Regions from separate parts of the Homo sapiens genome. Here regions 1 and 3 are each reported to be linked to region 2. Evidence: microRNA targets listed by miRTarBase, many of them from high-throughput screens and not tested one by one. Region 2 holds a microRNA gene; each other region holds the end of a gene's coding sequence.
The links. The annotated mature microRNA hsa-miR-216a-3p reads UCACAGUGGUCUCUGGGAUUAU and lies in region 2 at 3,776-3,797, shown strand. An mRNA with a match to its seed (bases 2 to 7 or 8) in the 3' UTR can be bound and repressed. Matches are read on the target gene's strand: a 7mer-m8 pairs with bases 2 to 8, a 7mer-A1 pairs with bases 2 to 7 and ends in A, and an 8mer does both.

Region 1 (7,000 bases), not on the chromosome of region 2:
TTTACTTTGTTCTAATTTTCTAGATGGTGATAGTAGCCTGGCTGCCTCAGAAAGAAAAGCTCTGCAAACAGAAATGGCACGTATCAAAAAGTGTAAGCTTTTTCTCTTACTCTCCAGGCAGCTTGAAGTTTGGGAAAAATAGAATGCAACAAATATTTGTTGAATGCATATAATTTTCTGTACCCTGCTAGGCATTTCTCATATTCTTACCTCATGAAATTCTCACAACATTTTGGTAGAAATGGAGGCAAAGGGAAGTTAAATTACTTGTTCAAATGCACAGAGCTAATAAATGGCAGGGGTGGTTTATAGATGGAAGTCAGTCTGACTCGAGAGACCCTAATCCTTTACCGTCTGATATTGCTCACTGAAAATGGGACTTATATCCCTTTGTTGCACTGGTATTGAGACCTGGCCGTGGGGTCTAACCTGCCTGGGGCAAATATTTTCAGACATTTTTTGTTTGGTCTCAAGTTAACAATTTAGAATTCAGAAGTCCAAATTATATGTCTTTTAGAATTCTGATCTGAAAGCACAGAGAGGCCTTTGTACCAGTCTGTCTGTTCACATTTGGGTTGCCATATTTAACAAATAAAAAGACAAAGCACCAGTTAAATTGGATTTCAGCTGAAAAACATTTTTAGTATAAGTGTGTCTGAAAAATTATATGGGAGATATACTAAAATATTCATTGTTTGTCTGAAATTCAAATTTAACTGGACATACTATATTTTATCCGGCAACTGTACTCTAGAAGACTTTTTCTTGAGAAATACCTTGAGTTGGGCTTAAGGATGAGTCAGTTTCACCCACTTTTTCACATTTTAGGGCTCACCTTCTCTCTGGGCAAACAAGTTGGGAACAAGTTCTTCCTGACCAATGGTGAAATAATGACCTTTGAAAAAGTGAAGGCCTTGTGTGTCAAGTTCCAGGCCTCTGTGGCCACCCCCAGGAATGCTGCAGAGAATGGAGCCATTCAGAATCTCATCAAGGAGGAAGCCTTCCTGGGCATCACTGATGAGAAGACAGAAGGGCAGTTTGTGGATCTGACAGGAAATAGACTGACCTACACAAACTGGAACGAGGGTGAACCCAACAATGCTGGTTCTGATGAAGATTGTGTATTGCTACTGAAAAATGGCCAGTGGAATGACGTCCCCTGCTCCACCTCCCATCTGGCCGTCTGTGAGTTCCCTATCTGAAGGGTCATATCACTCAGGCCCTCCTTGTCTTTTTACTGCAACCCACAGGCCCACAGTATGCTTGAAAAGATAAATTATATCAATTTCCTCATATCCAGTATTGTTCCTTTTGTGGGCAATCACTAAAAATGATCACTAACAGCACCAACAAAGCAATAATAGTAGTAGTAGTAGTTAGCAGCAGCAGTAGTAGTCATGCTAATTATATAATATTTTTAATATATACTATGAGGCCCTATCTTTTGCATCCTACATTAATTATCTAGTTTAATTAATCTGTAATGCTTTCGATAGTGTTAACTTGCTGCAGTATGAAAATAAGACGGATTTATTTTTCCATTTACAACAAACACCTGTGCTCTGTTGAGCCTTCCTTTCTGTTTGGGTAGAGGGCTCCCCTAATGACATCACCACAGTTTAATACCACAGCTTTTTACCAAGTTTCAGGTATTAAGAAAATCTATTTTGTAACTTTCTCTATGAACTCTGTTTTCTTTCTAATGAGATATTAAACCATGTAAAGAACATAAATAACAAATCTCAAGCAAACAGCTTCACAAATTCTCACACACATACATACCTATATACTCACTTTCTAGATTAAGATATGGGACATTTTTGACTCCCTAGAAGCCCCGTTATAACTCCTCCTAGTACTAACTCCTAGGAAAATACTATTCTGACCTCCATGACTGCACAGTAATTTCGTCTGTTTATAAACATTGTATAGTTGGAATCATATTGTGTGTAATGTTGTATGTCTTGTTTACTCAGAATTAAGTCTGTGAGATTCATTCATGTCATGTGTACAAAAGTTTCATCCTTTTCATTGCCATGTAGGGTTCCCTTATATTAATATTCCTCAGTTCATCCATTCTATTGTTAATAGGCACTTAAGTGGCTTCCAATTTTTGGCCATGAGGAAGAGAACCCACGAACATTCCTGGACTTGTCTTTTGGTGGACATGGTGCACTAATTTCACTACCTATCCAGGAGTGGAACTGGTAGAGGATGAGGAAAGCATGTATTCAGCTTTAGTAGATATTACCAGTTTTCCTAAGTGATTGTATGAATTTATGCTCCTACCGGCAATGTGTGGCAGTCCTAGATGCTCTATGTGCTTGTAAAAAGTCAATGTTTTCAGTTCTCTTGATTTTCATTATTCCTGTGGATGTAAAGTGATATTTCCCCATGGTTTTAATCTGTATTTCCCCAACATGTAATAAGGTTGAACACTTTTTTATATGCTTATTGGGCACTTGGGTATCTTCTTTTGTGAAGTACCCGTTCACATTTTTGTATTTTGTTTAAATTAGTTAGCCAATATTTTTCTTACTGATTTTTAAGTTATTTTTACATTCTGAATATGTCCTTTTTAATGTGTATTACAAATATTTTGCTAGTTTTTGACTTGCTCCTAATGTTGAATTTTGATGAACAAAATTTCCTAATTTTGAGAAAGTCTTATTTATTCATATTTTCTTTCAAAATTAGTGCTTTTTGTGTCATGTTTAAGAAATTTTTGCCCATCCCAAAATCATAAGATATTTTTCATGATTTTGAAACCATGAAGAGATTTTTCATGATTTTGAAATCATGAAGATATTTTTCCATTTTTTTCTAATAGTTTTATTAATAAACATTCTATCTATTCCTGGTAGAATAGATATCCACTTGAGACAGCACTATGTAGGAAAGACCATTTTTCCTCCACTGAACTAGGGTGGTGCATTTTTGTAAGTTAGGTAACTGTATGTGTGTGTGTCTGTTTCTGGGCTGTCTATTCTAGTCTATTTGTTGATGCTTGTGTCAAACAGTACACTATCTTAATTATTGTACATTTATAGTTGTAACTATAGTCCAGCTTTGTTCTTCTTAAAGTCAAGATTTCCATATAAATATTAGAAACAGCTTCTCAATTTCTACAAAATCCTGATGAGGTTTCTACTGGGACCACATTGAGTCTATCAATCAACTTATGCAGAACTGGCAACTTACTACTGAATCTCTAATCAATGTTCATCATGTATCGCTTCATGTAACTAGAATTTCTTTAACTTAATTGCTATGTTTTGACATTTTTAGTTTAAAAACCTTGTATATCTTGTTTTGGTGGTTTTAGTGATTTTAATAATATATTTTAAATATTTTTTCTTTTCTATTGTTGTACACAGAAATACAGTTAAGTTTTGTGTGTAGTCTTACGATGTTTAGTAAACTCAATAAGTTTATTTCTTAAATCTAGTAATTTGTAGATTCCTCTGGATTTTGTATATGCATAGTCATGTAAGCTGAAAATATGGCAATACTTGCTTCTTCCCAATTGCTTTACCTTTTTTCTTACCTTATTGCACTGGTTAGCAACCCCAATACAGAGACCACCAGATCAGGTATAGACTCCTGAAAGACAATATAATGAAGTGCTCCAGTCAGGCCTATCTAAACTGGATTCACAGCTCTGTCACTTAATTGCTACATGATCTAGAGCCAGTTACTTTGTGTTTCAGCCATGTATTTGCAGCTGAGAGAAAATAATCATTCTTATTTCATGAAAATTGTGGGGATGATGAAATAAGTTAACACCTTTAAAGTGTGTAGTAAAGTATCAGGATACTATATTTTAGGTCTTAATACACACAGTTATGCCGCTAGATACATGCTTTTTAATGAGATAATGTGATATTATACATAACACATATCGATTTTTAAAAATTAAATCAACCTTGCTTTGATGGAATAAACTCCATTTAGTCACATTTTATCTTGTGTATGTATTATTGGAGTGGACTTGTTAATAGTTTGTTTAGAACGTTTGCACCTATGTTCATGAGAGATACTAGCTTTTTTTCCCCTCCTTAATGCACTTGCTATGGTTTGGGGTCAATGTTATGTAAGCCTCATTAAAATGAGCTGTGATGTGCTCTCATGCTCCTTATTATCTAAAATAATTTGTGTAAAATTATACTTTAATGTTAGATAAATTCACCAGTGAAGCCATCTTGGAATGGTGTTTTCTGTTGGGAAATGATTTTAATTTCAGATTTAATTTCCTCATGATCTAAACCTATTCATGTTTTCTGTCTTTTGTTCGGTTTCAGTGAGTTATATTTTTCAATGAATGTGTCAATTTCCTCTGAATATATATGTATTGGCATAAAATTGTTACAATATCTTTGTATTTCTTTTCAATATAAGTAGGATCTATAGCAATGTCTATGTATCTGTTATGATTATTTGCATTTTATCTTTATTTTATTGTATTTTTTTTTGAGATGGAGTCTCACTCTGTCACCCAGGCTGGAGTGGCTGGAGTACAGTGGCACGATCTTGGCTCACTGCAATCTCTGCCTCCCAGGTTCAAGAGATTCTCCTGCCTCAGCCTCCCAGGTAGCTGGGATTACAGATGCCCACCACCATTCCTGGCTAATTTTTTTAATTTTTTGTGGAGACGAGGTTTCGCCATGCTGGCTAGGCTGGTCTCAAACCCCTGACCTGAGGTGATCTACCTGCCTCAGCCTCCCAAAGTGCTGGGATTACAGGCATGAGCCACTGTGCTTGGCCCATCTCTTTTTTTCTTAATCAATCTTGCAAAGGATTTGTCCATTTTATTAAATTTTTCCAAAAACTTCTTTTTGGTGTTTACTAACCTCTATGATTACATTTATTTATATCTGTTCCTGTCTTTATCATTTCTTGTATCGATCTTCTGTGGGTTTAATTGGCCATTCTTTTTCTAGCTTCTTTTAATTGACATTTAGAGAACTGATTTTCTTCCTTCCTTCTTTGCTAATATAATCATTTAAAGTTATAATTTTTATTTAAGAACTATTTCAGCTGCATACCACAGGTTTGGATATGTATCTTTTCCCACCAATTCAAAATAGGTTTTTCATATCCAATTCAAAATATTTTATAATTTTCATTGTGACTTCTTCGACTCATGGTTTATTTATAAGTGTGTGGTTTAATTCCTAAATATTTGAGTATTTTAAAAAGCTATACTCCTGTAAGTGATTTATAGTTTAATTCCACTGTATCCAGAAATATACTTTTATATGAGTTCAATCTTTTGAAATTTGTTAAGATTTTATTTTATGATCCAGTTTATGATTTAGAATGGTAAATGTATTATGTGCACTAGAAATAATGTGGTTTTTACAGTTGATTAGTGTATCATTAGGTCAGGATATGAATCTTCTTTGTATTTTCTGTATTCTCACTAATATTTTGCCCTTTTAGAAGGAAATAACAAAGATCAGAATAGAAATAAATGACATAGAGAGTAGAAAAGCAAATAGATCAATGAAACTCAAAAGTTAATTTTTGTGAAATGATACAATTTCCAAACTTTAGCTAAAATAACTAAGAAAAATACAGAGAAGACTCAAAATCAGAAATGAGAGGAGACACGACAACTGATAACATACAAGTACAAAGGATCATAAGAGCTACATTCCTTTGTGTTACATTGTTTTCTCTTTACATTCTGATTGTCTCTCGCTTGCTCGCTGTCTTCTTTTAAAGTTTTGTTTCAGAAGAACTAAAAAAATCTAGGTTTAAAATGTACAGATATCCTTTGTAACTTAGCATTAGGCAAAATTGTCTTAGAGAACTCAATTACTTTTCAAGTAAAAAATGATAAATTGAATTTCATCAAAATTAAAGATTAACTCAGTTTGTTAAACATTAGGAAAACAGGCAAACCATGACTAGGAGAAAAATATTTGCAAATATTGGCCTGCATCTGTCAAAGGATACATAGGATACAGAAACAACTGCTATAAGCCAGCAATAAAAAGACAGAACTGGGAAGGGATGGCCAGGGACCAAAGGAGAAGAAATGAAACACAGGATAGACCACCTTCAGTGTCCTTGGTCAGGAATTCCCATTCCTTAATGTTGTGGGCTAAATAGTGTCGCAAAAAAAAAAAAAAAAAAAAAAAATCTATGCAAGTCCTAACCACCAGGACTTATGAATGCACCCTTATGTGGAATTAGGGTCTTTACAGTTATGATAAAGACAAGGCGAGGCCACACTGGATTAGAGCAGGCCCTAATCCACTGACTGGTGTCCTTCTAAGAAGAGGGAAATTTGGACACGCAGTCACACAAGGAGAATGCTGTGTGATGAAGAAGGCAGAGAGTGGAGTGACACATCTTTAAGACAAAGACTGCCAAAGATTGTGGACAATACTGGTATCAGAAACTTCTGCCAACTTCTTCTGAAACGTCTGCCTACAAACTTGTTTTCTACTAAAATCGTCCATTCTATGAGAAAACACAGAATATGATGAACCATTCAGCCAGGAAACTGCTGCTAATTCCTCAGGGCTGTTTACCTATGATGGCCTATATCAGAAGCTAGGAGTGAGGCATAGAATAATATTCCTCAGAGCCTCCAGTAGGAACCAACCCTAGTGACACCTTGCTCTCAGACTTCTAGCCTCCAGCACTGTGTAAGAATAAATTTATGTTGTTTTAAGCCACCCAGTTTGTGGTAGTTTATTATGGAAGCCCTAGAAAACAAATACACTTGGCAGTGGAGACTCCTGTTGTGTATACTACAGTAGACTGAATTGTTCCCTGGAAAACATCCTTCTGAGCTTCAGTCTTATGATTGGGAAGACAGAAAAACAGAGAGAGAGAGAGAGAGAGAGAATGAATGAATGAATGAATTGAGATATTTTCATGTGCTTTCCAGGACCTCCATAAAAAGTCACTCTGCGGTCTGGGCTCACATCCCCACTGGGGGATTCATGAGGAGGGAGTGGGCTACTGTAGTGTGTGTGATTCAAAG
Region 2 (8,395 bases):
GGAAAACATGCCAGTGGGAAGCTCAGCTCAATGGCAGTTCCGGCTTTGGCTTTGGACTCGACACCCACTTATGCACACTATGACTCAAATTCCCTTCTCGTAATGCCTTATCTCTAGACACCACTCTCCATGAATCCCTTTCCCTGTTCGTAATCACTTCTAATCCTCATGTTCCTCTGTCTGACCTTCTTTTCCCACAAAAATCCAGAAAGTATGCACTTAATAAACAAACAAATCCATTGACAAAGATAGATGTATTCAGGGCAGCTTTACCAAAATTCAAACTGGTATTTAACACAATTCCAGCCAAAATGCTCATTTGTAACTCCAGCCAACTATTTTATTGAAATCAATTTGAAGCCAAACATTTTCCAAATGCCTACAAGGCTGCAAAAATAATAAATAATGTTTGGCTATTTTTCAAACCTTGGAGGATACAGAGTCCCAGTCCCAGAAATAACAAAAAGACAAGGTGAAAGGAAGCAGACTTGAAAAGAGTTATTGCTTGGATAGTGACTCTCAACCAGAAATCAAAGAGCAGAAGTTCATTTAGGGAAACTTCAGGTAGTTATCATAACTGCTAGGAAATTAGGATACAGAAGAGAGTAACATTGAGTGGATTCTCATGGGTCCTCTCATCTACCAGCACTTTTTCAGTTGATTTATATAGATTTTCTACCTTTGTTTTGAGTTAATTTCCAAAAAGTAGGATGCAAAAGATACTCAAATATAACAAAATTAATACTACTTCAGCACTAGCTTGAGTTTGAGTATCCAAAGACCTGAGATGTTTCAGAATTCAAGGCTGAAGTTTGAGGGAGGACATGTCTCAGATGATGGAGAGAAAGAAGAGAAAACTGAATTGCAAATACAGCTTGTATCAACTCTAGATACCATAAGGTTCAGAGGAATCAATAACATCATGTAAACTCAGAAGCCCTTCAACTTAGAGATTGAGACATCTCTTGACCTATATACTAACTACCCTAGTACATTGGTAATAAACCAGTAATTCAAGCAAGATACAGAAATGGATATGAAAAAATTCTAGGAAGGAGGAAAATAACAAAAAAGACACAAGCATAAAAAATGAGTGGGATTTGGATAACATTTGTAAACTCTAGAGGTGGAAGATTTGTAAAACTAACAGAAAAAGTAATTGAGTTAACCAAAGGACATAGGAGTAAAATTAAAACAAAATAAAATTAGCATTTATGGAGAATCTGTGTATCAGATTCTGTACTAGTTAGACATTTTCACAAACACCACATTTAGTTCTTAATCTCATGCACAAGTATTACCAACACAGAAACTGAGGCTCCAAGAAATAAAACAATTTGCCTTAAAGCCCACAGGTAGTTAAGTATTAGAACCAGGAGTCACACCAAGGTCCACTTCACTCCAAAGCTCATGTGCTTCCCGACACCCCACACACCATTCCACAGCCAAGATAGCTGCAGGAAGGGGTAGTCCTCCAGGTTTTCAGAAGATATCCAAATAATTACAGCTTTGAATAAATAACACTAGTCTTCAGGGAAATAGGAAAATTGCCACCATCTGAACAGACCCAATGACCAAACTGAAATTTATTACTCTCAAATACAAATCTATAGAGAGTCTCTAACAGAACTAAGATCACAAATGCATACATTGCGGTGCACCCAAAATATGCATATAGAGACATCTTAGATAATATCCTCAGAATACTTGAACAGAATGTATAGATAGTGTTAGAAACAGCTTACTCCTTGATACTTTGCTACTGTATTTCAGTTTATCTGGCCTGTGGACTATCTATCCACATTAATATAGCTTTGTTGCCAAAACAACTTTGTATCAGTTTCTTCCTTTTTCTTTTTTAAATGCCCATCACAGCAACCCACTAAGGTAGGCAAGGCAGAAACGTATATGTCTTTGCTTCCATTGAGAGCCCACCTCCCTGTGCAGTTGTGGACATGACAACTTAAGATTAATAAAAAGCTGTCTCATCTTCCACATCAGCATATGATGTTCCCATTTATGATCTTTTCTTAATGTTTTCTAGCAGAGGGAAGAAGAACTACATACTCCTGTCACTTCTCTATGGTAACTTTTCACTATTAAACTTTCTAGAGAGAAAGGAAAATCAAATATAAGATTAAGAGAAAAGAAAAAACTGAACGTCATTCATGTTGCTCTGAGAAGCCCTTGTTTTTTGATTAAGATAAAATCTGCTTATTTTTAATCCTGAGCAATTTGACTCCAGAAAATAAACTTAGAACAATATTTAAAAAGTTAAATCCTAATGATGAGACATTCTTATTTTACAAAAGTAGCTTTGTACTTAGGAGTCCATATGAGGCACAAGATTATATTCAATTGTTCTTTCTCAATTGTTTTGTAACTTTATATTTACCTGACTTTTAAAACGAAAAGCCACTTTTCTAACTCTGTAAATTACCACTCTCTTAATTGTGTCAAGTCTCAATTATTAAAGGACAAGTTATGAGCTGAAATCCATAATTCTTTGCTTCAACAAACATTTGATTTAGTTTGACAAAATTTTTTTGAGCACTTATTAAACATCAGATGCTAAACTGAGAATAGTATAGTTGAGGATATAGAGATGAATAAGCACAGTGCCAACACTTGGAAGTTTGCAGTCAATGAAGGAGAAAGCATGTGAGTGAGAAAACACCATTGTGTATTACAGGTGCCAAAAAAGGGAGACTGGGGAGAGAAGGCAGTGTGTGATAGTTTTCAATGTGTGACTGTCACACAAGGGGGTGTGTGTGTGTGTGTGTGTGTGTGTGTGTGTGAAAGAGAGAGAGAGGAGGGAGAGAGAAAGAAGAAATAATTCCAAGTATGGGCAAACACAGCTCATTGGATTCTCAGAACTTGTTAGAGCTGGAGTCTACAATGTAGAGGAAGAAATGGTCTAGTATGAAGTGAAGCTGGAGAAAGGCAGTGGAAAATCTCCACCGAAGTGCAAATCGCAGCCACCAAAACCAGACCTACTGAATCAAAATATAGAGGTAGGTCCTGGGGATCTACATTTGTAACAAGTTTCCTATGTGCTTCTTACACTCACTCAAGTTGAGATGCCATCCACGGCAGATGGTGGGGAAACTCTGAGGGCGTTTCCTCTTCCTTCCGTTCTTAATCATTATTCTTACCATTGATTAGCCCCACCCAGTGGACTGAGGGGCTTAGATCATGGCTCAGTCTCACTTAGCCATGACAGTGATGTGGGCAAGAGGGGAGGACATACCACCATCTATGAAAGGTAATAGCCACCGCTATTGACACATCTGGCCATTTGGTGAGTATACGGTCATTACTTTTTCAACGTAATTGCTGGTTTTCTTGTCTGAGGACAAATTTTAGAGTGTTTGGCTTTGATGTTTCCAAGTTCTCTATAAAGCTTGTTTAAAAAATCATTTTTAGTGATTGGTTTTACATTCACCTGTACTCCTACTTGGCTGTTTCTTACTATATATGGATTAGAGTAAATCCTTTCTAAATGCAAAGATTATACTTTTATGACATTACATGCAATATAGCATATGCCAGAAATCTGTGAATTCAGCAAGAGGAGTAGCTTGATAATGTCGCCTCAAGAAAAATGCAGAGGGGTACATCAGGGCTTCTGCTGGTGCACTCGATGTATGAAGATGTGCTTCCACCTGAGGCAGCCACGTGCCTCTGCTCATACACTTTCTCTTGCAGGTCTAACACGGATGGCTGTGAGTTGGCTTAATCTCAGCTGGCAACTGTGAGATGTTCATACAATCCCTCACAGTGGTCTCTGGGATTATGCTAAACAGAGCAATTTCCTAGCCCTCACGAATCAAAAGACTTGCATGGCAACCAAAATTAAACACCAAATTTCTATTTCATGACCAAGACGGGGGGAAAAGTTTCGATGGTTACTGTTTCATGCTCAACCTCTTTTAATCTTAGTAAAGTCTTTTTCTAAAGTGCTGTTGTGCTGGAAAGGAAACCAGCCTTGGGAATTAATTTGCCTTTATTGGATTCGCTTGCTACTTACTGCGCTCCTTCAGTGCTACTTGGTTTTTTAAAAAATTGCAGCCAAGGGAGTTTGGGTGTTAGAAGCTGAACCCAAAATATTTTCCCTCTGAAAGCTCCTCCCACTCTCTTTGTGGGTGCTACTCCATCAAATTCCAAACAGTCTAAAAGAGGACGATCTCCTGCCAGGCCCTCCTCAAACTTCAACTCCCCAGATTATCACATTTAATCGCCCTTCCTCATTCCTTCTGTAAGTGTTTCACATTCATCTGCCCTAAATAATATTGAAATTTAGAATCAACTATGGCTTAGGCTGAGGTTGCCATGAAACTTTTGAGCTGTACCCAACTCTAATTCTCGGTGATCCCTGGAAACAGATAATCCTTTTCCATAAAAAGAATAAGAACAAATGTAATTCTTCAGGGTGAAAAATCAAGGCCAGTTATCTTCCTCATTCACCCAGTAACACAAAACAAATCAGATGAACCAAATTTATAATTAAATGTGGGATAACTTTAACAACAAAAATTATTAAAATGCTATTTCCAAGGTCTTGACTGGCACATATCCCCTCAGGTATCCTCAGAAAGAGAAGTCTGTATATCTCAGTTTGATTAAATTACATTTCTGGGCCGGGCGCAGTGGCTTACGCCTGTAATCCCAGCACTTTGGGAGGCTGAGGCAGGCGGATCATGAGGTCAGGGGATCGAGACCATCGTGGCTAACACGGTGAAACCCTGTCTCTACTAAAAATACAAAAAATTAGCTGGGCATGGTGGCGGGCACCTGTAGTCCCAGCTACTCAGGAGGCTAAGGCAGGAGAATGGAGTGAACTCAGGAGGCGGAGGTTGCAGTGAGCCAAGATTGCGCCACTGCACTCCAACCTGGGCGACAGAGCGAGACTCTGTCTCAAAAAAAAAAAAAAAAAAAATTACATTTCTGTATCAAGGCACATTAGTATGACCTATTAGATTTCCTTGCCAGAAATTGATGTTGAGCAGTAGGAGGTAAGTTTGAGAACTAGTTATTCACATACTAATAGCACAAATACTGAACCATAAGCCAGGAAATAACTTACCTCTGGTAAGGAGAGGGCTTCGTATTAATTTTCAGGACTCATTAAGGGCTCTTTTAAGCTGCTGCTGAAACTTTCTAAATGTTGTCTGTATCCTCCTGCTAGTTGAAATAATCATTTTTTCAAACATGAAAAAATTCCCAATTCCAATTTTTGGTGACCATTTTTCAAAAAGGGAAGAAGATAAATGTAATTAAACAGAGCAGGAAATATTTTTTGAAGAGCTGAGTACATATGATGCATCAGGAACCATGCTTGTTGCCTTGCTTGTGTGTACACTCAGTGCACTCTTGCAGTCTCCAGATGTTCCCAGTGCTCTCTGCACATAGAGGCACAGGGAGCTTTTGAAAATGTCAATATCAAGGGCTGTGCCACTGATAAATCAGAATGCCTGGGATGGGATCTGGGCATCTCTGTTTAAGAGGCACCCAGGGGATTGTAATGTGCAGCCAAAGGTGAGAATCACTGTATTTGAGCTCAACAGGGAAGCTGTGGTTGGAGTGCAGTGAGAAAAACTGGAAGGAGAGGATTAGAGGGTATAGCTAGGTAGACTATGGTAAGAATTTGGGGTTTTAGTGTGAGGGACTCCACAAGCAATTGGAGAGTTTTAATTAAAGAAGTGGCATGACTTATTTACCAGTAACACAGTTTAATAGACTTTTCTTAGAATCTAACCATGTATAAACTTTAAAGAAAAATAGTTATTGTGGACTGCAAATAACTTCCTTGTCATTTAACTTTAGGAATGTAAGACCACAGGATAGGCAGATTCCAACCAAGAGGAAAGCTAGTATGAAAGAACAAAAAGGAAATTAGCTCAGAAATCAGGAGCCCCAACTCCTTTAGGCAACAGCTTGAGTCACTGTTTCAAGAAAAAAAGAAAATCACTTATCCTTTCAACACATAGATTCTGACTTTTCTTTTAAAGCTTAATAATTTTAGAATTACATCCTGGTAGTAATTAGCATCAAAATAAGTGAAGGATTTGGCATCTCTGTCAATGAGACATTCAAAATATCATTTGTTAGACTGGGTTTATGCCAGTCTTCAGTAAAAATAGAGTACAACAGGATTCCCACCCTTTTAGTAAAGAGGCTCTGTCTTGCTGATGACCGAAGACCTTGTTAGGGCTCCTGGGAACTAAGTCCTCAGCATTCCTAGCTCATCATCTCATTCACCAGCACCTAGAGCGTGGCACTTATTATCCCTTTTCCACCTGTACCATGAAGACTATGAAAGTCAAGGTGCAAGCAGCCGGCCTCTTAATCAGAGCAAACAAGCAGAACCTACTGCCAGTCCGCAGGACTAGACCTTAGATGTCTGCTGAATCTGTGATCCTGAGCTTTTGTTGAAAACCTGAATTATATTTCTGCCTGGTAAAGATGGCCCCAGGCTCCAAATGTTTGTCTTCTGTGGAAATCCAGATTAGAGTTTTCTGTGGCCCTCCCCCATGCTGTACCACTAAATGATGAACACTTATTGAATGCCCAGAAAGTCCCACTTTTCCCTCCTTTGGCAGCCTGCCCTCAGCCCAACCAAAACAATAGCAAAACAAAATAAACAAAAATGGCTTCTGTTTTTAATGATCACTGCAAGATTCACCATGAAACTCCTATAGATGAGTCTCTATAACCGTCTTATCCAAGCCAGAGCTGTCTATCATTAAGGTAGAGCAGGACAGAAAGAGCTTTTCTGGTTACAGACTTAATTCTGTATCAGATAAGTCCCCTCAGGATCCGTAACCCTGCAAGGTACCCAATTTGGGCTCGTCACCTGGCATGGACATACCAGGAGGATCTCTCTGGAAAAACTCTTGAAATACCCTGGAAAGGGTGATCCTCTGCTTTTTAGTTATATTATACACACCTCAATTACTGGGAAATACTCTTCAGCATATACAATGCTCTAAAGATTGCTCAAAACTGTGACCTGAATTTTAGGATTCTGTTTTATAGTGGCCAATCTCAGTTGTATTGCTTACTATCATTTTGCATTGTCTACAGGCATGTTAGTTATATTTCCAAACTCAAGTAGTGATTAGTTGGCCAGAGAAAAGCAGAGTTTCTGTTCTGTGATTTCTCTGCGGTGAAAGGAAATGAAAACAGGAAGTTACAAATGTACTCCTTAAAGACCTATAATAATATAGTGACATTCAACAAGCAACATTCTTGAACTACAATAATTACTAGGACTTGAACTTCTATAGGTGCTCAATTCTGGCCTTTTTCCTTCTAGATCATCACATTCACTTACCAAGGTCCTGTTTGAGATCACCTGTTTCCAATAACTCAAATAGTCTCTGCCTAGGGTAGGGCACTGGTTCTAAAATTATGGCCCCTGGACCATATCACTAGAGAAGTTGTTAAAAATGCCAATTCTTGGGCCCCATCCCAGATTTACTAAATCAGAGACTCTAGGTGTGGGTCTCAGCAATCTATATTTTAACAAGCCTGTGGATTATTGCTCAACTTTGAGAGCCACTGGCCTAGAGGACCTTTTCACCCACCTTGATGAATCTCTCCTTCCCCATCTGATTCCCTGCAGTAGTTTGTAAGGAAAGATGACATTTTAATATCCAGTCATCCCAGCCAACTGTATCCCAGTCCTTGGGACTTTAAAACTTGCAGTCTTATGCTGGACACTCCAGATAATAGCCAAAAGAAGCCTAAAATTATGACAAGACTCCTGCCCTGTTATTTTTAATTAATGACACTACCTGAGGAAGATCACATAGAGCATATTTGCAACAATCAAATCTTAAGAAAGCCTATTCTTCACCTACTTTCACTATCTTATCACAATTCATCCCAGCACACAAATGACACAATACAAACTGGTTTCCCAATCACCACAAGAGTTGTTAACCCAAGTCCCTAATCTGTCAAATCTTGCTGCAAAACTCAGAAACTATAACTACAGAGAGACAATACTAACTAGAGGGGAACATCATGATGAACTGGCTTCTCAGGTGCTCCTCCTGGGGTTCCTTCTCCAGTAAGGAGTCTTTAGGTTTTCTAAGACCACTCTGCTTACAAGTCTTTGGCTTCATTTGAATACCCTTTAGAAAAGATATACAGATTTTAGGGAAATGTCTGGTAAACAATTGAGATACTGTATTTGATCACATATAAGACCTCTAGAGAGAGAAACAATAAGCTAGAAATTATGTCCCTAAGATACTTTAATGTACTCCAAATTTTCACTATCTGTAAAATGAAAATATGATTAACCTTAACTCTCAAGCCTATTTGGAATCCAGATAAATGAGACAGAAAGCCAAAAGTGGATTCTTCAGTCTCCATTTCTATGATC
Region 3 (7,000 bases), not on the chromosome of region 2:
AGTAACTAGAATGAATGACTATTGCTGCCTTTATTTTGATTGGAATTCAGTTGTATGTTGCTTTTTTTTCCCCCCCACAGGTAGCAGATATCAAGAGAGTTAACAATCTCATCAGTGATCAAGACTTTTTTGCCCTTAGGTCTATCAAAATTCCAGTAAAAAAGTTCAGTTCCTTGACCGAAACACTTTGTCCTCCAAAAGGAAGACAGACTTCACGTCATTCATCTGTTCAATACTCTTCCGAACAACAGGAAATTTTGCCAGCTAATGATTCTCTTGCTTACAGTGACTCAGCTGGTAGCTTTTTAAAAGAAGTAGACCGAGACATAGAACAAATAGTAAAGTGTACAGACAATAAGAGAGAGAACCTCAATGAGGTAGTATCGGCCTTAACAGCACAACAAATGCGTTTTGAACCTGATAACAAAAACACTCAACGTAAAGACCCCTATTATGGAGCAGACTGGGGAATAGGGTGGTGGACAGCTGTAGTGATAATGTTGATAGTAGGTATAATAACACCAGTGTTTTATTTGTTGTATTATGAAATTTTAGCTAAGGTGGATGTTAGTCATCATTCAACAGTGGACTCTTCACATTTACATTCAAAAATCACACCCCCATCACAGCAGAGAGAAATGGAAAATGGAATTGTGCCAACTAAAGGAATACATTTCAGCCAACAAGATGATCATAAACTGTATAGTCAAGATTCTCAGTCACCTGCTGCTCAACAGGAAACATAGCAATTAGCTCATAATCAAATGTTAGTGGTCACATGTGCATCTGGAATGTGGTGAATCAGTTATATCCAATAATAGCTTCAAAGGCAGAATTTAGAGAGATTGAGGATGCTTTTGTTTTTAACAAAAGGGTTTCACACTTTGAAAATTTTTTGAGCAACTAGTTGTTGATGTTGAGAGCAGTTGATCCATAAATCTGGTGTGTGAATGTTTCAAGCAGAAATTAATTTAAATGTGTGTTTAGGAAGTACTTAACTTGGAAGATGTATCATTTTTCTTAAAATGCATGTTTAAATTTTATTTTTTTAAGTAATTTTTAAAAAGTTTATTAATGTTAAATTTATGATGCAGAATGATAGCATCAGATGTCTGCAGCTGAAAAAAATTTACTACTATGAACCCCCAAAATATTCAGTTGCAAGAAAATTTGATTCTAAAATTATTCATGGTAGGATACGTAACACACCCCTTCAAAACTTTTAAAAAATACATTTAGCACATGTGCTATGAAAGCATACGTACAAAGAGAAAGGGGAAAGTGATTTATAATTCCTACAACAGAGGCCAAGAAATAGATTAAAATATTTTCAAGACCCCAAAATAATGTATTATGGTTGGGAAGTCAGTAGAACACTGGAATAGGTGAAGACCTGACAGTAATTTTTGTCTTAAGAATGCTTTCTTTAGGACAGACCCTTTAACCTCACCTCTGTGCATCTGTTTTTAAAATGATTATATTTGCCTCTGATATTTGAAAGCACTTTTGTAGTTTTGATGATGAAAAATATATTAAACGTGCATATTACCATTATTTAGGAAATAATTCCTTATATACTGTGATAAATCATTGCTGTTACATACAGTAACATGCCTTAATTACATTTAATGCCTTACTGCTTTATGTAAGTAAATCCAAGTTTCAGAATTAAAAATAAGCATTATTTCATATGGTCCAATCAGATTCGTTACATAGGCTATATAAATTTGTCTCCATTTTCACCATCAAGCACAAATAATTGGGTCAAAACTGCCTTTGAGGTCTGTTGAAGAAAATGGTTCATTAAGCAAAAAAGAGTAGAGGTATTTTATATTAGCAGTAACAGACAAATTATTTAGTAATCCCTTAACCTCTGTTTTTCAAAGAGAAAATATCCAATTTAGACTTTTTTCCTGATCTCTATATATAGCATCAAATTGGGAAACAAAGGCCAAAGGTGTATAGATTGCTTGAAAGGGGGTGGTAGTGCCTCTTTTTAAGATCTGTTGAGTCGGCTACAGTCTGGCTAAGTAAGAAGCATTTGCATACTGATTCCATCATTTAATCTTTAAAAGTATGTGTTTTAAAAATGTAACCAGAATGATTCTTCAATAGAAATGAGATTTGGTGGAGTCTGGATTGCCTGTTTTGTATATAATATATACTTAAGATATATAATACCACCTCATTTTCTGGGCATTATTTCCTAATTGTTGATGTTTCAGGCTTTTGATAAGTCATTTTATATATTTCAAATTTAACTCAGAATAAGTAAATATTTATGGCAAATGCAGTTTTATGTACTTTCAGGAGAAGACCATCAGGAAAAGACAGGACAAAGAAGTCAAACATTAAAGCCCTTGCAAATATTAGAGGACCTTAGACAATTACCAAAAAGTGTTTAATAGGGAAGTTGCAAATGATTCTCTTAGTAAATTAAACATTTAAAAAGTAGTTTTAATGTGCCTTGGGCATCTTGAAAAGAAGAGTGTGATATAATTTATGCTTAGTGTTAACTGGTCATTTTACATTGTATTTATTAAGTCTGCTGAAAAATGAGGTTTTAAGGAAGAAAATGCAGATTATTTTAGGGTAAACAGGCCAGGTGTCCTTTGAAGAACTTTGTTTACATCAAATTGATGAAATTACAGTCAGTGATTCCTTACTTTTTTTGCTAGTTGTACTTTGAAATTGTTATGGGTTCGATTTCCAAAATATGTAACTTATTTTTTAAAGGAATAAGGTGTGCTGTGTATTTGTTGATTAAAAATCATTTGTCTTGCAGAGTATCCTTTTTTGAAGGAAATATACATCCTTATAACACATCAGGTAGTTTTCTTTTTTCTGTATTTAAATTATATATTTGAATTAATTGAATATAATTTGAGTTACATATAATTCTATATAAAGGTTACATATTGAATTATGGTTCTAATCTGTTTAGGAAAGAAATGAATTTTCTAAGCATTTAATACATTTGGAATAATTTTAGTTTCTAAAAAGTACTAATGTAAGTTAAGTTTATATCAAATGCAAATTACCTTGTATAACTAACAAGCACAGTTATTGTTTAACATTATGGATTTTAATTGTGTTGACACCCTTCTTTGAATTTGTTGCTTTACATGTGTGTCTGTGTGTGTGTCTGCATGTGTGCACGCATGTACTTGTATGCAATGTAAAAGTAACAGCAGAATCATTGCATTTGGTTTACTTAAAATTTTGGAGTTAGCAAGTAAACAAAAAGCTGATAGTTTTATGAAGTCTCGGTTAAAATAAAATTTCTTTGCTATCTCACTCCTAGGAAGTTATGGAGTTCATATTTTCAAAAGATATGTTAAAAATGGTTACACACTCTGCTGGCCACATTAAAAATTAGAAGACTCATGTTAAATTATCTCCTCCAAAGGACTTTTTATTTACAGCTTTTCTTTTCCTGGACTCTACCTGCTTGGTTCAGTGTCCTGAAGAGTTATTTAAATGAACCACTACTTAGTAATTAGTTCTTTTTTAAAGTATCTACTTCTAAAATTACCTAGTTGAAAATATGAAGGATATGCTTAGTTTTAGAAATATCATGAAGCAAGGATCTAGTCAGTGTTACAGGGTAAAGGTGGAGTTTTTTAAAGTCTGTATTTAAATGGTGCACTGATGGATTCATTTTTAATTTGCATTACAAAAATGTTGCTCAGGTAATCAGTATTTTCTTCCACGTATGTGCATATTGCACTGTTAGATCATAGAAATATCTGAATGCTTTAATTTTTATGTATGCAAAATCTATAAATCTTTTGTATAATGTATTTTATACAAATGTAACTGTAGAACATTGTTAGCATGTGTATCTGTAAAACCAGTTTTTAAAATTTTTTGCCCCTTATTTTTCATATTTTGAAAGATCTCCAACATGTAATAAAGTTTCTCTTATTCAATCTAAAATGGAAGCCAGTGAATTTAATTGAATAAAGCAAAGCTTTTCTCCACTTTCAAACTATCTAATATAGAGATATTATGTAAGATAGAGCAGATTGCCAAAGGTTTACCAATTCAGATTTCTTATTTGCTACAGTGAAGCAGAATACCTTGGATTATTTGTAAGACATAGATGAAATATTTTAGATGAATGTTCTTTGGGAGATTTTCCTCAGGGTAAGATCTGGTAAGGCATGGTCCAGGAATTGCTATGAAGTTGTAGATGAGTCATTATCTATAGATTATAACCTGCTCTCTTTATATGTGATTTTAATTTATTATAAAACAACCTCAAGAATACTGTTTAAAAGATTATTAGCAGAAAAATTGAGAAAGTTCTTTGGAGCTTTTATTTATTTAATGGAGGAATGTGTATAAACCCTGATTTTTTTCTTCCATTTTCAAATGCATCTTGATCTTAATATTGTGTTAATTTTTTTTAATAAATAGTAATTTTTACTACAGAGGTTTTTTTAAATTTTTTTTTGGAGACAGGCTCTTGCTCTGTTGCCCAGGCTGGAGTGCAATAGCATGATGGTTCACTGCAGCCTCGAACTCCTGGGGCCAACTGATCCTCCCATGTGAGCCTCCCAAGTAGCCGGGACTACAGGCACATGCCACCACACGGGCTTGAGATTTTAACCATGTAAAGGCAAAGCCATCGACACTGTACATTTGAAGGTAGTGAAGTGAAAAGTTTAAAAAGAATCTTCTGAATGTCTTAACATTCTCTGGTATCCACTATAAGTCAGCCCAAGCATGAATGATCACACTAAATTATATTGTCTGCCAAATCTCTTAAGTTATCATAACTCGTGTGTGTGTGTGTGTGTGTGTTGCCATCTTGGCTCACTGAAGCCTCGACCTCCTGGGCTCAAGCAGTCCTCCCACCTCAGCCTCCTCTTGGCCCATTGAAGCCTTGACCTCCTGAGCTCAAATAATTCTCCAACCTCAGCCTCCCGAGTAGCTGGGACTATAGGCACAGACCAGCATGCCCATCTCACAACAACTTTTTTGAATAATCATTAACCAGAGTTTTGTTGTTTGTGGTGATTGTTTATTCAAGAATATTTGGAACAAACATCCCTGCTTAATAGTTACTAGTTAAGATCTATATTAACAAATTAGTTTTCTCTAACAAATAAACATTTAAATAAGTTCAAAATAAAACATCTTACTATAAAACAAACGAACACATTTTGTTTTGTAAGAATTTAATGTGTAAATAAATACAGAAAAACAAGCATTACAGCAACCAGTTTTGCTCATGATAGCAATTTTAAAGACACTTCAACAAATACTTTTATGTAAGAGGCTAATTCTGCAAAATAACATTCACTTTCCTATGGAATAATTTCACAGTCCCAGATTTTAAGCCAGAAAAATGAGACTCATGCTGGTAAAGCAACCTGCAAATCCTGCTTGTTCTTGCAACTAGTATACTTTAACATTGTAAAAGGATCTTTCAAAGGGGGAAAGAAGGCTCTTAACGGTACCTCCCAGAGTAAATCCTTGCCCCAAGGGGCTGCCCTGCTATCTGCAAGACTAAAATGGTCATGACAAATTCAAAGCTAAAAAAAGAAATAACCTTTATCTTCAGTGTATTTGCCTGGTTCAAGTGGTTATCTGCAGATTTATAAGTAGGTAAATAGAACAATATTGATAAGATTTCTGAAAACTAAATTGTATTTGGCTCTGGTACTAAGGAGTTGAGAGAATAAAACACCTATGTTAATTATCAACCGCAAATGACAACTTTTTGTGAGGTTTCTATTCTAAGGCTTACTTTATTCGTGTATTCCATTTAGAATCTTAAAATTTTTTGACAACTTCCTTTAAACAAGAAGTAATTCACAAATGGTTAACACAGCACTAAACTAATAAGATAGGTCCTCACACCCATCTTGAATTATTTAAGAAAGTATTGCCATTGAAACATCTTTTTCCTGAGAAATTCATATTGCAGAATGGCACAAGACAATACACATTTTCTCCAATTTTCTGCATGAATACAAGATAGGAAAATCAGATTACAATATATTTTGTGAGGAAAACATGTTTCTTAAAATTGTGCTTTCAGTTACTCTCCAAACTACAAATTTTTAGAGGGTGAGAGCCAAATGTAAGTTAAGAAGTGATCTTTAAGGCAAGAGAATGAATACATATGGTAAATTTTGGTTGGTGTTTAAACAATTTTTATAGGAAATTGTTTACGAGTGGAGAAACTAAGGCACAGAAACAACCAAGCTCAGGTTCAAGGTTGAGTTTAATAGTATAGGTAGAAATAGAATCTAGGGATCTGATTCTCATATTAGAGGATAATATCTCCCCAAAGGGGAAAAATAAAATTATTTCTTTTGGTAGATAACATTGATAAATCATTTTTGAAATATATAATATGAATTTCCTTGAAAATCTTTGGCATTTCTGAGAGTCTTTGTAGGCTGAGGTTTTTAGGTATTTTTTCCCAAAAAATATATAAAGTTAGGGGAGCTAGCTTTAAAGTTAAACAACAAAAATATTAATATTAATTTCAAAATGACCTGAGTTCATTTTGCATTTTTATATAAATCAATTGTACACTTGAGTACTCTGAAACATAAAAGGCCACCACACTTCACTTCATAGAGTTCACACACATGCATTCTACATATTTATATGACCAGAACTTATTTCACATTTACATAAAGTATAAAATAAAATGTCTTAGTCAAATTTTTCATAAGCCCAACTATTTGAAGATGTCAGTTATTACAGTGGGATGATTAATTCATATACAGTATTAAGTCTCAAATTCAAGTATTATAATATTCACCCCATGTGAAAGTTTCTTTGTACTGGCTAAGATGTGAGCTGTGAAATTTATATTGCTCAGTTTGGTATTTTTCCCTATGTGTATGTTTTCCATCACAAAACCTCTGTCTCACAATTCTGTACTTGTAAGAGCTCAGGTAGGTTTATGTAGTCATAATGCAGTAGTCTAGAACACACCATGTAAAGGTAAAAAATAAAATTATTTTCAAGTTTC

Region 1: miRTarBase lists MBL2 as a target of hsa-miR-216a-3p. The part of its 3' UTR that is shown has no 7-base or 8-base seed match.
Region 3: the mRNA of LYSMD3 is a reported target of hsa-miR-216a-3p. Seed matches in the 3' UTR shown: 7mer-A1 at 1,577-1,583.

The regions. Positions count from the first base shown.
Region 1 is chr10:52,762,339-52,769,338 of GRCh38, reverse strand. MBL2 (mannose binding lectin 2) reads left to right here. Exons shown (of 5, transcript NM_001378373.1): 4 at 24-92; 5 at 829-3,959. The coding sequence ends at 1,202. Among named protein-coding and RNA genes, the nearest start is that of MBL2, 6.9 kb to the left of the region's middle.
Region 2 is chr2:55,984,383-55,992,777 of GRCh38, reverse strand. It overlaps MIR216A (microRNA 216a), which reads left to right and starts at 3,719; the gene lies at 3,719-3,828. The region is part of intron 2 of MIR217HG (MIR217 host gene); the gene reads left to right. The region is part of intron 3 of LOC105374690 (a long non-coding RNA gene); the gene reads right to left. RefSeq lists enhancers at 7,239-7,328, 7,359-7,418.
Region 3 is chr5:90,512,565-90,519,564 of GRCh38, reverse strand. LYSMD3 (LysM domain containing 3) reads left to right here. Exons shown (of 3, transcript NM_198273.2): 3 at 81-3,939. The coding sequence ends at 746. POLR3G (RNA polymerase III subunit G) reads right to left here. Exons shown (of 8, transcript NM_006467.3): 8 at 5,008-7,000. Among named protein-coding and RNA genes, the nearest start is that of LYSMD3, 14 kb to the left of the region's middle.